Homo sapiens: one gene and its partner. The gene in region 1 interacts genetically with each later gene. Each region holds a gene or a part of one and is shown in the gene's direction. Other genes may lie near its edges.

Region 1 (7,261 bases):
ATCAAAATCAAGGCTCAGGAATAACAGGGTCAGGGTGACTCTCGAAGCTGGGTGACAGGAACTAAGGAACAGGCTCCATTCAAAGCCACTGCTGGGCTATATCGGTTCAGTTGTCTTTTTCTCATTGTATCATATCCTTGCAGATTAAGTTCCCAGAAGGAGGGGGTCTGGTGTTTTCCCTCGTATCTTGCATCCACTGACTTCCCCGAGGATGAGGCCCCCTGATTAACACTCTTCCAAGTCTGCATGAATTGGGGAGGGATGATTACTCCAGAGAGATGGGAAATCAATTTCTTCCACCTGAGGAAGTAGCTTTGGCAAAATCGAAGTATTCTTCTGGGGAAGCAGCAAGACTGCCACTTGGCCGGGGCACCCCGCTGGGGGCTGGCAATGCTCTGCTTGCAGTGGGTCCTGGAGCCAGGCTCCTTTCCTGGGAGAAAGGGGTGTGTTTTTACAACACACAAAGGTGCTGCTATGGACTGAACTGTGTCCTCCCGAGATTCACATATTGAAGGCCTAACCCCTACTGTGACCATATTTGGAGACAAGACCTGCAAGGAGGGAATGACGGTTCAGTGAGGTCCTAAGGGCAAGACTCTGATATGACAGGATCAGCGTCCTAAGAAGGGACACAAGAGGGGGCTGTGCTCTCTCCCTCTCCACTGCATAAGGACATAGAGAGGAAGAGGGTCCTCACCAGAAATCAATGGCTGGCACCTCGATCTTGGACTTTGCAGCCTCCTGAATTGTGAGAAGATAAATTTCTGTTGTTTAAGCCACCCGGTCTATAGTGGTGTTTTTTTTTTTTTGTTTTTTTTTTTGTAGCCTGAGCAGACTAACACAGGTGCCATATGGACTGGCAGCCGATCTGGCCTCTATTCCCTCACCTATGAAACCAGATGGTCTCTAAAGCTCCTTCTAGCTTTAAAATGCAATGTGTCAATATATCCATGAATCATCTATCAATGCATATTTGCTTGCTGCTCAACTAAGTCCTGAGCTACAAATAATAGGAGGCTGTCGAGTAAAATACAGTATGCCCAGTTACATTTGAATTTCAGATATGTTTAAATCCATTTTTAGTGTAAGTATGTCCCACACAATATTTGGGACAAATATTTGAGACATTTGTTAAATCTGGCTGTTCTAGTTATTTGTCTTCTGTTCTCCAAATACTGTAACCTTTTGGAGGGAGAAAAACTGGACCTTACTCATCTTTGGATTCCCTTATGGTGGTGTCTGCCAGCTTTTTGGATTTCACTGACTAAACATTATTGGATTAAGTTTTGGAAGAAAAAACAAATTTTTATTTTGCCCAATAAAGGTATTTATAATAATCATCACTTTACTAAAGAAAAACCAGTTAAACTTTAAAACCTATTAAATAGACTCTCAGGATTTTATAATTAATTGTAAAAATTTAGTTTTACAACATATTCATTACATTATCCTTTTGTTTGCTTGTTTCTGAGGCAACCAGGTGATGCTCTGAACCATTTTGGCACTGCTCAGGTGACCAGTGTTTGGGAGCTTCAGCTGTGCTGTGTTTGGTTGAAGGTCTTATATGACTTCTGGACATTTTTGCTTATCTGCTAGGAAGCTCAAAGTCAAATTGCAGCTTGACCGCTACAGCTGTCTTCTCCTCTCCTTTCACTCCTTGTTTCCTGTGTTTTCTTCCAGGCCTTTAAACTTTTTTTACTAAATGAAGTTTCATTATAATCTACCTTAAGAACTGGTGAAATACAGTTTTTTAAAAAGCCTTGCATACAGTAAGACCTCAGTAAACGATGCTACTGACAAAGCAAAGATGCAACTATTGAGTGGGGTCTAATTAGTTTACTTTCTGAAGATGATTATTCCCCCCAAATGCATTTTTTTTTGTTGTTGAGATGGAGTTTCACTCTTGTTGCCCAGGCTGAAGTGCAATGGCATGATCTCAGCTCACTGCAACCTCCGCCTCCAGGGTTCAAGCGATTCTCCTGCCTCAGCTTCCTGAGTAGCTGGAATTACAGGCATGCACCACCACGCCCAGCTACTTTTTGTATTAGATGGGGTTTTGTAGAGATGAGGTTTCACCATATTGGCTAGGCTAGTCTCGAACTCCTGACCTCAGGTGATCTGCCTGCTTTGGCCTCCCAAAGTGCTGGGATTATAGACATGAGCCACCACACCCGGCCTCAAAGGCATATTTTAATTTCCTATTCTTAGAATTTTAGAATGTTAGAGCTAGAAAGGTAATCACATCTTCTAACTCAATTCCAGACTTACTGAATTGGAATTTCTGGGGTAAGATCTGTGAATCTATAAGAATTCTAGTATCTAACATGAGGATCCACTGGTCCACAGGCCCTCTTAGCATATGTCAAAGCAGGGTATCATTTTACAGGTGAGACGACTGAGGCCCAGGAAAGCGAAGTGATGGTCATATGAATCGGTGACAGACATGAGTCAAGTGCACGGCACCCAGCTTTCTTAGTAAATTAACTGACTGTTGGGAGACAGGAAGGGCAGGGACAGGTGTTCATTAACTAGTTTCTGTTCACACTATACAGTAGGAAATGAGCGCTAGGTATAGAGAAACGGACGATATAAGAGATTTACCTCAAATAATAACAACATCCCTCTCTTACCTGTTCTGGGATTTCACAGTTCACTAAGCACTTCCCCTCATAATACCTTGCTTTGATTCTAATAACAAGATTTACCAAGGTGGTATTGTTTTCTACATTTACTTTACAGATGAGAAAATGGAGGCACAATCACTGGGTATGTCAGGTCAATAAAAGGGGTAGAGCTGAGATTTGAATACTTTCTACTACTAAACCTCACACAGATCCCCTAAGACAGGCAATGTCTTTGTCATTTAAGACAAATGGGCTGGGCGCAGTGGCTCACACCTGTAATCCCAGCACTTTGGGAGGCTGAGGCAGGTGGATCACTTGAGGTCAGGAGTTTGAGACCAGCCTGGCCAACATGGTAAAACTCTGTCTCTACTAAAATTACTAAAATCAGCCAGGCATGGCGGCATGCACCCATAATCCCAGCTATTTGGGAGGCTGAGGCAGGAGAATCATTTGAACCCAGGAGTCAGAGGCTGAAGTGAGCCAAGATTACACCACCACACTCAGTCTAGGCAACAGAGTGAGACTCTGTCTCAAAAAAAAAAAAAAAAAAAAAAAAAAAAAAAAAAAGGAAGGAAGGAAGAAGGGAGATTATTTATTGTTTCAAAAGTCACACAAATTCTACATTATTATTTTAGAAAATTCAAATCATTCTGAAAAATAGAGATTAAAAAGCTGAAAAGTGTATTTCATGCCACTCTGCTCCTGAACAGTTTGGTGACTTTTTAAGTTTCCTTCCCAGACCTTTATGAGTTTACATACATGTACAGGTAAGGATGAAAAAAAAAAAAATCAAACTACACACATTGCTGTGCTTCCTTTTTCTTAGCATGTCTGGTCCATTTTTTCAAATCCTTTAGTAGACTTGTTTGTTTTTAAATGAGCCATGTTTGAAAATAGAACAATAGCAACATTCATATGCACACTGATAGAGAAATGTTATATTTATCACCAATGGTGCTCAGGATGGCTCAGGATGTTGGTGCTCAGGATGGGGTAAAGTGACTCTTTAAGTCTCATGACTAATCTTCTCTCAAGAGGAGGGGCTATGGAATCAGAATCACAAGCTAGCTTAATAAAGCCTTGAGAAATATTATCAAATAGCTGTCTTAGTTTCCCCCTCTGTAAAAGGGGGACAAGAATGTGTTCCATAGGTTGTAGTGCGGTTAAATGAGGTAACTCATATTTATGCTAAACACAATGACTGATGACTACAATGATGACGATGATGGCAGCCGGGCGCAGCGGGTGGGGCTTAAATGGCAAGTATAGCAATACCAGGAATGGATGCCCCGGGGAGATACTTTTTATTAAGAGCTGCCAAGTTAGTATGGCTGTCTGGGATGTCCTCTGGAGACAGCCGACTCCGGGTTTGGAAACCTCAACGTCCTAGGCTTTCAGGACCTAGTGTTTGGCTAAACCTCTGGAGAACTACAACTTCCAGGGTGCACCACTTTCGCCCCGCCCATGACGTTGCAGCTCCCGTTTCTCGCCAGGCTCCCGGCCCGAACTACAAATCCCAGAAGACACTGCAGCCCCGCTCGCGTTCTCGTCTCATCATTCTTACTTTTGGAAGCGAAACTGCGGCCGCGTTGCCTGCTGGGAAATGTAGTTCAGCGGTGGCCTAGCCCTTCAGGCCTGGCCGCTACAATAAGGCTGGCGAACTCGCAGCGCTTGAATACCCGTGGCCTAACCGTCCACTCGGAAGACCGGTCCCGCTCGGGAGGCTCTGCAGTCGCGCCTGGGGTCAGGGCCGGGGGCGAATGTGGCTCGCGTTCTAGGCCTCCCTGGGTGAGAAAGTGGTAGACTGGCAGGAAGGCGGCGGAGGCGGACGAGACCAATGCCAGCCTGGAGGAGGAAGTGGGCCAATGGGAAGGGTGAATCCAAGTGGAGATCGTAGGGGTGGGAGTGGGGCGTGGCGCCCGCTTACCTTGAGGCTGGGTGAGGCTCGCCCCGAAATGCGGGGCGTGGGGGGCGGGGGGCAGAGGTCCCTGCCTAGAGGGGAAGAGGGGCGTCCATGTGGCGGAATGGATTTATGGTTTGGGGCTGATCAGTGGGTCTTATGGCCGAGTCTCTCTGGTTAGTGGAGACAGCTTACCAGGCCTGGGATCTGGGGAGTTTGGAGGTGCAGGAGATCCCTGGTTGGAAACTTAGGCAGGAGTGTGTTACCCAGAGAGACTGAGGGCTTCTGCTGTGCACCTCCAAAACCTTTTCCTAACCTCTTCACCCCTTCCTAACTGCTAATGGTTGGAGAAGGTGGAAGTTCTCTGGGGATAGATACTTCGTGGTGGGGGAGGGGGGAGGGGGGTTGGGTTCTGGCCAAAGGGAGCCCCAGCAGGGAAGGAAGGCTTTGAACCCTATAGCTGCCCAGAGGCCTAAGCAATGCTACTGGAGTACCCCTACATCATCATTGTAACCGTTACACAGCATTACATTAGATGCAGCCTATTTAGTCTGAACCAAGCCAGACAAATTGGTGTGTCCTGCCCGCTGCTTCTAAAATATTGTAAACATGTCTCAGCTCATAGGAAAATAAATGTTCCGGGTAAATTCATGGAAAAAAATAATCAGGGTGCAATATGGAATGTTTACAATGATCCTACTTTATAATAAATTCTTATATCTCCTAAATATGTGCCATTTTGTTATGGATGAAAAAAAATCCGAACTATATACTCTAAATTATTAATTTCAACTGTGGTTATTGATGGCTGGTAAGATTACAGAGTAATTTTATTCTTTTTTGTTTACATCTTTATGTAGCATCTTAATTTGCACAGTGAACACATAATTTTTTTTTTTCTGCTCCTTATTTTCCCAGGAGAGTCAGTCAGTTGCTCCGTGTGTTGTGTTGGAAGTCAGGTCCTAAGGCCAGCTGCTCTGGCTTGCACTGAGCCACAGGCAGACTGATTTGCCAGGAATGATAAAAAGGGGTGAATGTGAGGGGAGAATTCAGTGTGCAGGCTATGGGAGGCTAATGCTTTTTTCCTTCTTCTAGGTTGGAAAAAGACTATGTTAGCAAGTGTCACGCCATGGTATGTGGTTGGTTGGTCTATTTCAGTCTAATCTATTATGCTTTCTGGTTAAAAATGTCACCTTTCTCATTATCTGATGGATTTACGTTGCAATGCATAACTTTCTTAGGTTCTGATAACTCACCTTGGCTGGGCCATGTGAGTTATCAGAAGAGTTACTCACCATTTTGGCAGTGCTTCGAACCATTGAGTTACCATGTGAGTTACCATGTGAGAAGGAGAGAAATATTGCCTCTGAAATGCCTTTTTAGCTTTGGATTTGCTTTTTGCTTTTTTTTTTTTCTTTGAGAGTTTTGTTCTTGTTGCCCAGGCTGGAGTGCGGTGGCACGATCTTGGCTTACTGCAACCTCTGCCTCCCAGGTTCAAGCAATTCTCCTGCCTCAGCCTCCCAAGTAGCTGGGATTACAGGCGTGCACCACCACGCCTGGCTAATTTTGTATTTTTAGTAGAGATGGGGTTTCACCATGTTGGCCAGGCTGGTCTCAAACTCCTGACCTCAAGTGATCCACCTGCCTCAGCTTCCCAAAGTGCTGGGATTACACCCGACCTGCTTTTTGCTTTTTGATCAGGGTCTTTATTTCAGCATATGCTGCCTACTATTTCAGTGTGTGTGCAATTATAAAAGAAACTTTAATACATCCTTTAGTTGTGCTCATTATGCATTTTCTGGGACAAAAGCTTGTTAAAATCATGGTTGGAGTATGACAATTAATACATGTAATGTTCATTTCATTCTTCTTACTTTCTTCCACAGCTTTTGCCAACTTTCCAATTAAAGGTTGACATTCCTGCATAAGCATTTCTCTGTGAAAATGTCCTTGCCTCTTACAGAGGAGCAGAGGAAAAAGATTGAAGAGAATCGACAAAAGGCTCTGGCCCGCAGAGCTGAGAAGTTATTGGCAGAACAGCATCAGAGGACTAGCTCGGGCACCTCCATTGCTGGCAACCCATTCCAGGCCAAGCAAGGCCCATCCCAAAATTTCCCAAGGGAGTCTTGTAAGCCAGTGAGCCATGGTGTCATTTTCAAGCAACAGAATCTCAGTAGCTCATCTAATGCTGACCAAAGACCTCATGATTCCCACAGTTTTCAGGCAAAGGGAATATGGAAAAAGCCAGAAGAAATGCCCACAGCCTGCCCAGGCCACAGTCCACGTAGTCAAATGGCTCTCACTGGAATCTCTCCTCCCTTGGCACAAAGTCCTCCAGAGGTCCCTAAACAACAGCTCTTGAGTTATGAGTTAGGTCAAGGTCATGCTCAGGCTTCACCTGAGATCAGGTTCACACCCTTTGCTAACCCAACTCATAAGCCTCTGGCCAAACCAAAGAGTTCCCAAGAGACACCAGCTCATTCCTCTGGACAGCCTCCCAGGGATGCTAAGTTAGAGGCCAAGACAGCAAAAGCCTCCCCTTCGGGGCAGAACATTTCTTACATCCATTCTAGCTCAGAGAGTGTAACGCCCAGGACAGAAGGAAGACTCCAGCAGAAGTCAGGGTCCTCAGTCCAAAAAGGAGTGAACTCTCAGAAGGGAAAGTGCGTAAGGAACGGCGATCGTTTCCAGGTGTTGATTGGGTACAATGCGGAACTCATTGCAGTGTTTAAGACCC
Region 2 (7,025 bases), on another chromosome or scaffold:
GAGGACCTTCAGTTTACAGCTTTGATTCAGCAGTTTCCTTTTCCTGGAGCTCAGCCTTTTCCACAAAGTGTTAACATTGCCAGGAACCTTCCAGTCATCCTCCCACTACTCTGATGCAGGGAGCCATCATTTCATCTTTTGACAGCTCATCTAAAATAGGAGGAGTCACAGTTGCTTCTCCCTCTATTAGGACAGAATTCAGTAAAACAGCCCAAAATCTCATTTTTTTTAAATTTATTTTTATATTTATTTATTTGAGACAGAGTCACACTCTGTCACCCAGGCTGGAGTGCAGTGGCACAATCTTGGCTCACTGCAGCCTCCACCTCCAAGGTTCAAACGATTCTCATGCCTCAGCCTCCCAAGTAGCTGAAATTAACAGGCACGTGCCACCACACCTAAGTTTTGTATTTTTAATAGAGACAGGGTTTTACCATGTTGGTCAAGCTGGTCTGGAACTCCTGACCTGAAGTGATCCTTGCACCGCCTCCTAAAGTGCTGGGATTACAGATGTGAACCACCATGCTCAGCCACATTTTTTTTTAAATGGTGTTAACAGTTTACATTTTTTTCTTGCCATTTTATTTCATTTATTTTATTCCTAATGACTTAATGTTTTCCTTTATATTGGAAACATGTTACAGTTTTCTAAAGAAGTTCAGGGAATCTTTTAATACACAGCCTATCTTCCCCGAAGTGTCTTTCTTCCAAAGCAGAAGCTTGGGGGTTGATGGGGGCAGCTGCGCCACCTGTTGGCCTTTTAAGTTAATGGCGTCCAAAGTGGGTTCTTTCTATTATAACTGTTTCAATATTGTGCTACAGTTCTCTACACCCCTGCAAAGTCAGATTGCATATCATTATGAGATAAGATGTCTTCTGAGTTTTGAAATAAATGGATTTCTGGTTAAATTTTAGTTTTCTATAAAGAATGTGGGCAGCCTTGGTGAATTATTAATACCTGTGTAATAGTAAGGTGGTGGAATTATAGTTAACCTCATTTTAAGTATAGCCAAATGCTCTTAGTATAGCATGGATTGGTTCGAGGTGATGTTGTAAAGTTGGATTTTTAAGAAAGAATGGAAATTGGCACTAAGAGTACTGTCAAAAGCATTTGTTTGAAAAGTGGATTAAATTCCCAAGTACTTTTCTTTCATTGCTTTATTAACTAAATCAGGTATATAAAACCCATAGGCCCTATTCAGATTTTCTTTACCAGTTAGCAGCTTTCATTGTGAAAACATCTGAGTCCCTTTAGACAGCTTTTTGTTTATTTGAGACAGTCTCAGTCTGTTGCCCAGGCTGAAGTGCAGTGGCGTGATCTTGGCTCACTGCAACCCCTGCCTCCTGGGTTCAAGCGATTCTCATGCCTCAGCCTCCTGAGTAGCTGGAGTTACAGGCTCCCACCACCACGCCCGGCTAATTTTTTATATTTTTAGTAGAGATGGGTTTTCGCCATGTTGGCCAGGCTGATCTGGAACTCCTGACCTCAAGTGATCTGCCTGCCTCAGCCTCCCAAAGTGCTGGGATTACAGGCATGAGCCACTGCTCCCAGCCCCTTTAGACAGCTTTTACATAAACAATTGGATACACCAGGAACCCCAGTCATCCCTTGTGCTGTGGATGCATCCTGGTTCCCTGAAAGAGGCAGCATCATGGTACCCATGTTCCAGAGCAGTGTGTCGCAAACTCTAGTGTGCATCCAAGTCTTGTTAAAAATGCAATTTCTGTATAGGATTCAGTAGGTCTAGGAGGGGGCCTGGGATTCTGCATTTCTAAACTCCCACATGATGCCAATGCTGCTGGTCTGTGAACCACTTGTTGAATAGCAAAGTTCTAGAAGAAGGTCTTATTAGGCTTTTCATATGGGAAATCTGGGCTTGCCTAGTATGGATATATATTTTTTTATTCATATTCCACCCACCTAACTTTGAAGAAGAAAGATGCCTATTTCTTTTCCCCACAATTCCTTTCTTCCACTCCCTGCCCTATCCCTTCCTCCCCTTCTTGAACAGAGGCTGCTTAGCTTAGCAGTGGCAGGAGTCCCTCTGAGGATTTGATTTTTAAAAACCATTGAAGAGGTGTAAAGGACCCTGCTTGCTGAAAGGAAAAGGAAGAGTGACTGGGCCTCCCCCAGGTCATCCCTGTCCTGAGCAGGCACCTGGGAACAATTAACTGGCATAGTCTCCAGAGAATGACCCAGGTAAATATATGCTAAAGAGAAGGAGAATTTGTACAAGTAGATATAAATCAGTATGTTGTCTTTGTTGTTGTTGCTACTATGTGTCACCAGACCTTTATATACCATGAGAAGGCAAACCATTATTAAAGAGAATTCGCTAGCCCTGGGTATTTATGCTTAGAACATGAATACTATACCTCACTTTTTGGAACCACTTTTTTCTCTAGGTAAAGTCATGAAGCTGAGCCCCAAAGCAGAGGAAGTAGCTACGTTCTTTGCAAAAATGCTCGACCATGAATATACTACCAAGGAAATATTTAGGAAAAATTTCTTTAAAGACTGGAGAAAGGTACTGTAGCCCATGTGTTAATATCCTAGTACCTTGCAAAACAATCAAGTACTAAGTAATAAATTATCATTTTGCAAAACATTTCCTGATGTAAAATTTGAGTTGTATGGATTTTGTTGTATTTAAACTTGCGTATTTTTTGTCTTCATTTACTATATTATGTAGGGTTTCTGTCCAACAAGAGTACTTGTATATCTTTGCTATTGGCTCTCATGTGATGGCAGGTAGGTGGGGGTTATCAGATTAGGCCAAACAGAAAACCTCAACTCCAGTTGCGCACAGGAAAGTTTGTCGCTGCAGGACTGCCCCGTGTCTGCTGTTGCAAAGAGAAATGTTAATCTGATGTCCCTCTCGCTGTTAATTCTTGCTCATTTATTTTAGGTACTTTCTACTCTTGAAACCACATATACTATATTTGCCTAGGTGATTTTTTAAAATCTCATTATTCTCAATTTGGATAATGTGGACAGAGGCAGCAGTAAAGTTTACTTCCTGAACTAGCTCAGAAAAAGCAGACTTAATAAATGAATAGAATAGGGGTAATGTTTCCAAGAGAGAATCAGTATGGGATTTCAAACTTGTATTCATAATGCCTGGGGGCTGTGTGCCACGGAGTCTAAGAAACCACATAAGAATTCATTTTTTTCCATGATAAGTCATTTTAAAACATTTTAATATTAGTAAGTACATATTTTATAATAAAGTAATACAACTGTATTTTTTTGTTTTTTCAAAATTCATTAATTGAGATTGGCTACTTCCAGAAACCTTTGACTGAAAAAATGGTGCTTGGGTGTATTTGCAAAGAAACCCAAGGACTTATTAGTGTATTTTCGTTGTTTTTCTTTCATCTCCCCATTTTCTTTTGACTAGGAAATGACTAATGAAGAGAAGAATATTATCACCAACCTAAGCAAATGTGATTTTACCCAGATGAGCCAGTATTTCAAAGCCCAGACGGAAGCTCGGAAACAGATGAGCAAGGAAGAGAAACTGGTACTACAGAATTTATTAAACCTCTGGAGAATTCTGGAATTGTGATTGGTTCATTTAACTTTCTTCTTGGTTCTTATGACACAACATTAACATCAGTAATTTCACATCATTCTATGCTAAAGACTTAGAGTTCTCAAAGTCTAAATTTTCTTAAAGGTTTTAGTTAGACTGAAAATTGTGAACAAGTACTTTGCTCAGTAGCTCTGTACAGGAATCTTGGTGCTTCAGTGACCTAAAAACCAGTCAGTAACTCCAGCCAATAATATAGTAATTAAGGATGGGCAGACCTGTCCCACAGTGGCTACTGGATATTAAGGATTTAAGACAGATGAAATCATATTGGCCATGTACCTCCCTGCTCTTTGATCTATTTTACTCTGGAATCTTGTGATGCTCATCCATCTCCATCTTCCAGCCTTGGCCATCCTCATTACTGAAGGATCTTTCTGGTATCCAGCTGGGATGTCATTTTTCTTCTACAGGCTGCCTGTTTTTGTAAAAAAAAAAAAAAAAAATTTATTGGAACCAGCTGCCTCTACTTGTCTACATATTATCTACGGCTGTGTTTATGCAACAATGACAGAGATGAGTAGTTGCAAAAGAGAGTAGTTGCAAAAGAGACTGTGTGGCACTCAAGCCTAAAATATTTTCTATCTAGAAAAAGTTGTCAGCCCCTGAACTAAAGGAATCCAGGCTAGAATTTCATTTTTACCAATCGGAAGTCCAGAAGTTAAGGATTTTAAGGAATTCTTTGCACTTCAAATTCCTGTAGTTTCAGTATTTTAAAGGACTTGCGTGTTTACGTAATTCAGACCATTGTATTGATATAACTCATTGTTTCATGGTACTTATTTGGTCACTAGTTTAAAAATTAATGCATTACTATAAGAATGTTAATTGCATCAGACTTTGTGTCTCAGGTAAATCTTATCCTCAATATTCCAAGTTAGTGAAATTTAGTATATTATTTACTTCAGGGGCATTTTGAAACTTAAAAGATCACTTTGGAGCTTTGTTCTTAGAATATTGATCCAAAGATAGATTTTATAAACATCCCCTTGTCAGAGCCTCTGCCAAGGACACCTGCTGCCAGCAAGGTCTGAATCTGTTCCCACCCACAAGGCAGCACAACTTAGTTAAACTGAATCAATAAGTATATAAAACGCAGAGTCAATAGAGGGTAAGGAGGCTCAAAATCTCCCCCACCATCCCTCACCTTTTTGGAGCAAGGATCATAGTATAGAGTGTATATACCTGTATACCTACAAAAAAATTAGTGACAGATCTGTCTGAGCTTAAAAACCCACGTTTTTAAGCTGTTTAACTGCTGTTTAATTAAATGGCTTGAGCTATTCTTTTATGAGGCTCTATCAGAGACTCTTCTCCATTTCCTGTTTTGATAGTACTCAGTAAAACAGTATGAATTTTTAAAGTACATTTAAAAACACCCAAATAACATTTACAAACATATATCCTTTAAGACACAAGAATCAGTTTTGAATCTAGTTGAAATCAATCCTTATAGGCAGATCTTTTTGGGGAATTTTATGATATTTAAGTTTGAGAAAACCACTAGAGGTTTTCCTTTATTTGAATTTATTTTTTAGTGATTTTTCAGACTTTCCTCTACCTTGACTTAGTCTCCCACAAGAGATAAAATGCATTAGTAGAGAACAGCAATCTGAATCTATTTTGAGTACTTTCTTGCTGTCTTCCAGAAAATCAAAGAGGAGAATGAAAAATTACTGAAAGAATATGGATTCTGTATTATGGATAACCACAAAGAGAGGATTGCTAACTTCAAGATAGAGCCTCCTGGACTTTTCCGTGGCCGCGGCAACCACCCCAAGATGGGCATGCTGAAGAGACGAATCATGCCCGAGGATATAATCATCAACTGTAGCAAGTGAGCTCGCACTTCATCCTATGGGCCAAAAAGGGGGTGGAGGGCGTCCTTTATTGTACTTGGGAATATTTCCCAGGTTACACAGGACTGTTTGGGAAGGGAGATACTTAAGAGCAGGACAGTATTTCATGCGTAGGTCTCCAGATGTTTTTGAGGTACAGTTGTCTCCCCTCATCCACAGGGGATATGTTCCAAGACCCCCAGTGGATGCCTGCAACTTCGACCCAATTGCTGTCACTTGGAACACATTTCTGTTGATGTCTTCCACCCCCAAATTTAATGTCTTTTCCATGTTTATTAAGTACTTATCACATAGAGTGGCTATAACTTTTGCAGTCTGAGGCACAACAGCAAAACTAGCACGACTTTCTTTTTCCTTCTTCACAATTTCACAGATGGAAGGTTAATTCTTACCTTAGATCTTAGCAACTTCACCATACAGTTTTTTTTATTAAGTCGATAATTTCCACCTTTTCATTTAAAGCACTCTGTGCAGCTTCTGTATGGCATATCCAAATTGCCAACATCACCACTTTCACACTTTGGGGCCTTTATTAAGTAAAAGAAGGATTACTTGAACACAAGCAATGTAAAACCATTAAAGTCAACCTGATAAATAAGGCAGCTACTAGGTTACCCATGGGCAAGTGACATATACAGCATGGTATGTTGTATATATGGTTCACGCATCCCAGGTGGGACTACAAGAGATTTCATCATGCTCCTCAGAATGATGTGCAATTTAAAACTTACAAAATGTTTATTTCTGGAATTTTGTATTGAATATTTTCGGATGACAGTTGGCTGAGGGTAAGTAAAACCATGCATAAGGTGGGACTACTGTATTGACTGTTAAGAAGGAAACTTGGAAAATTATGCTCAGCAGATAGGTCCACTTGGGGTCATGAAAGGTGAAATTATTCCTCACATCTTATTTCACTATCCTCGTGCTCTGTTATTTCCAGAGATGCCAAGGTTCCTTCTCCTCCTCCAGGACATAAGTGGAAAGAAGTCCGGCATGATAACAAGGTTACTTGGCTGGTTTCCTGGACAGAGAACATCCAAGGTTCCATTAAATACATCATGCTTAACCCTAGTTCACGAATCAAGGTAAGGGGATAGTTGAGAGCTGCACTGGTTCATGGTGCTGATAACCTTTTTTTGTTGAAATGTAACGTTCTCGTCCTCTAGAATCACTTTGACAAATTAAAAATCCTCCCCATTGAAAGAAGGCAAGTACTTTCATAGTTAGCATTATGGTGATCTTCCTACAGTGCCTCCATTTTTTTGGTCACATTGTAATCTTATTTATTAATTCACAAATATTTACTGAAATCCCAAATGTGCCCCACACAGTATACATTTGATGCTAGGAATTATGTTGGTAAACAAGATAGACGTAGGCCCTGCCTTCATATTGCTTAACGTCCAGTGGTCAGAATGTGTTGAAGTATGGTGATTGTATATTGGCCTCTGCAGATGTCTTCTACTTCCTCACCTCTCTTGGTTATGAGAAGGGAATGTAGTTTCTGTATATCCTGAAACAAGTTGTAAAATCTAATGTCTTACATACTTCTGGCTTCCTGCAGTCTCAT

Evidence for each region.
Region 2: of SMARCAL1 (region 1) and TOP1, changing one suppresses a phenotype caused by changing the other (phenotypic suppression), as found in Homo sapiens cells (one study listed by BioGRID).

What each region holds. Positions count from the first base shown.
Region 1 is NC_000002.12:216,408,237-216,415,497, forward strand, and holds the start of SMARCAL1 (SWI/SNF-related matrix-associated actin-dependent regulator of chromatin subfamily A-like protein 1), read left to right. Parts: upstream 1-4,247; 5' UTR 4,248-4,412; intron 4,413-4,528; exon of another isoform or gene 4,529-4,562; intron 4,563-5,619; 5' UTR 5,620-5,656; intron 5,657-6,410; 5' UTR 6,411-6,468; coding exon 6,469-7,261. UniProt on the Homo sapiens protein: ATP-dependent annealing helicase that binds selectively to fork DNA relative to ssDNA or dsDNA and catalyzes the rewinding of the stably unwound DNA. Rewinds single-stranded DNA bubbles that are stably bound by replication protein A (RPA).
Region 2 is NC_000020.11:41,094,814-41,101,838, forward strand, and holds part of TOP1 (DNA topoisomerase 1), read left to right. Parts: intron 1-2,406; coding exon 2,407-2,528; intron 2,529-3,180; exon of another isoform or gene 3,181-3,401; coding exon 3,402-3,524; exon of another isoform or gene 3,525-4,011; intron 4,012-5,242; coding exon 5,243-5,430; intron 5,431-5,844; exon of another isoform or gene 5,845-5,979; intron 5,980-6,358; exon of another isoform or gene 6,359-6,395; coding exon 6,396-6,540; intron 6,541-7,025. UniProt on the Homo sapiens protein: Releases the supercoiling and torsional tension of DNA introduced during the DNA replication and transcription by transiently cleaving and rejoining one strand of the DNA duplex.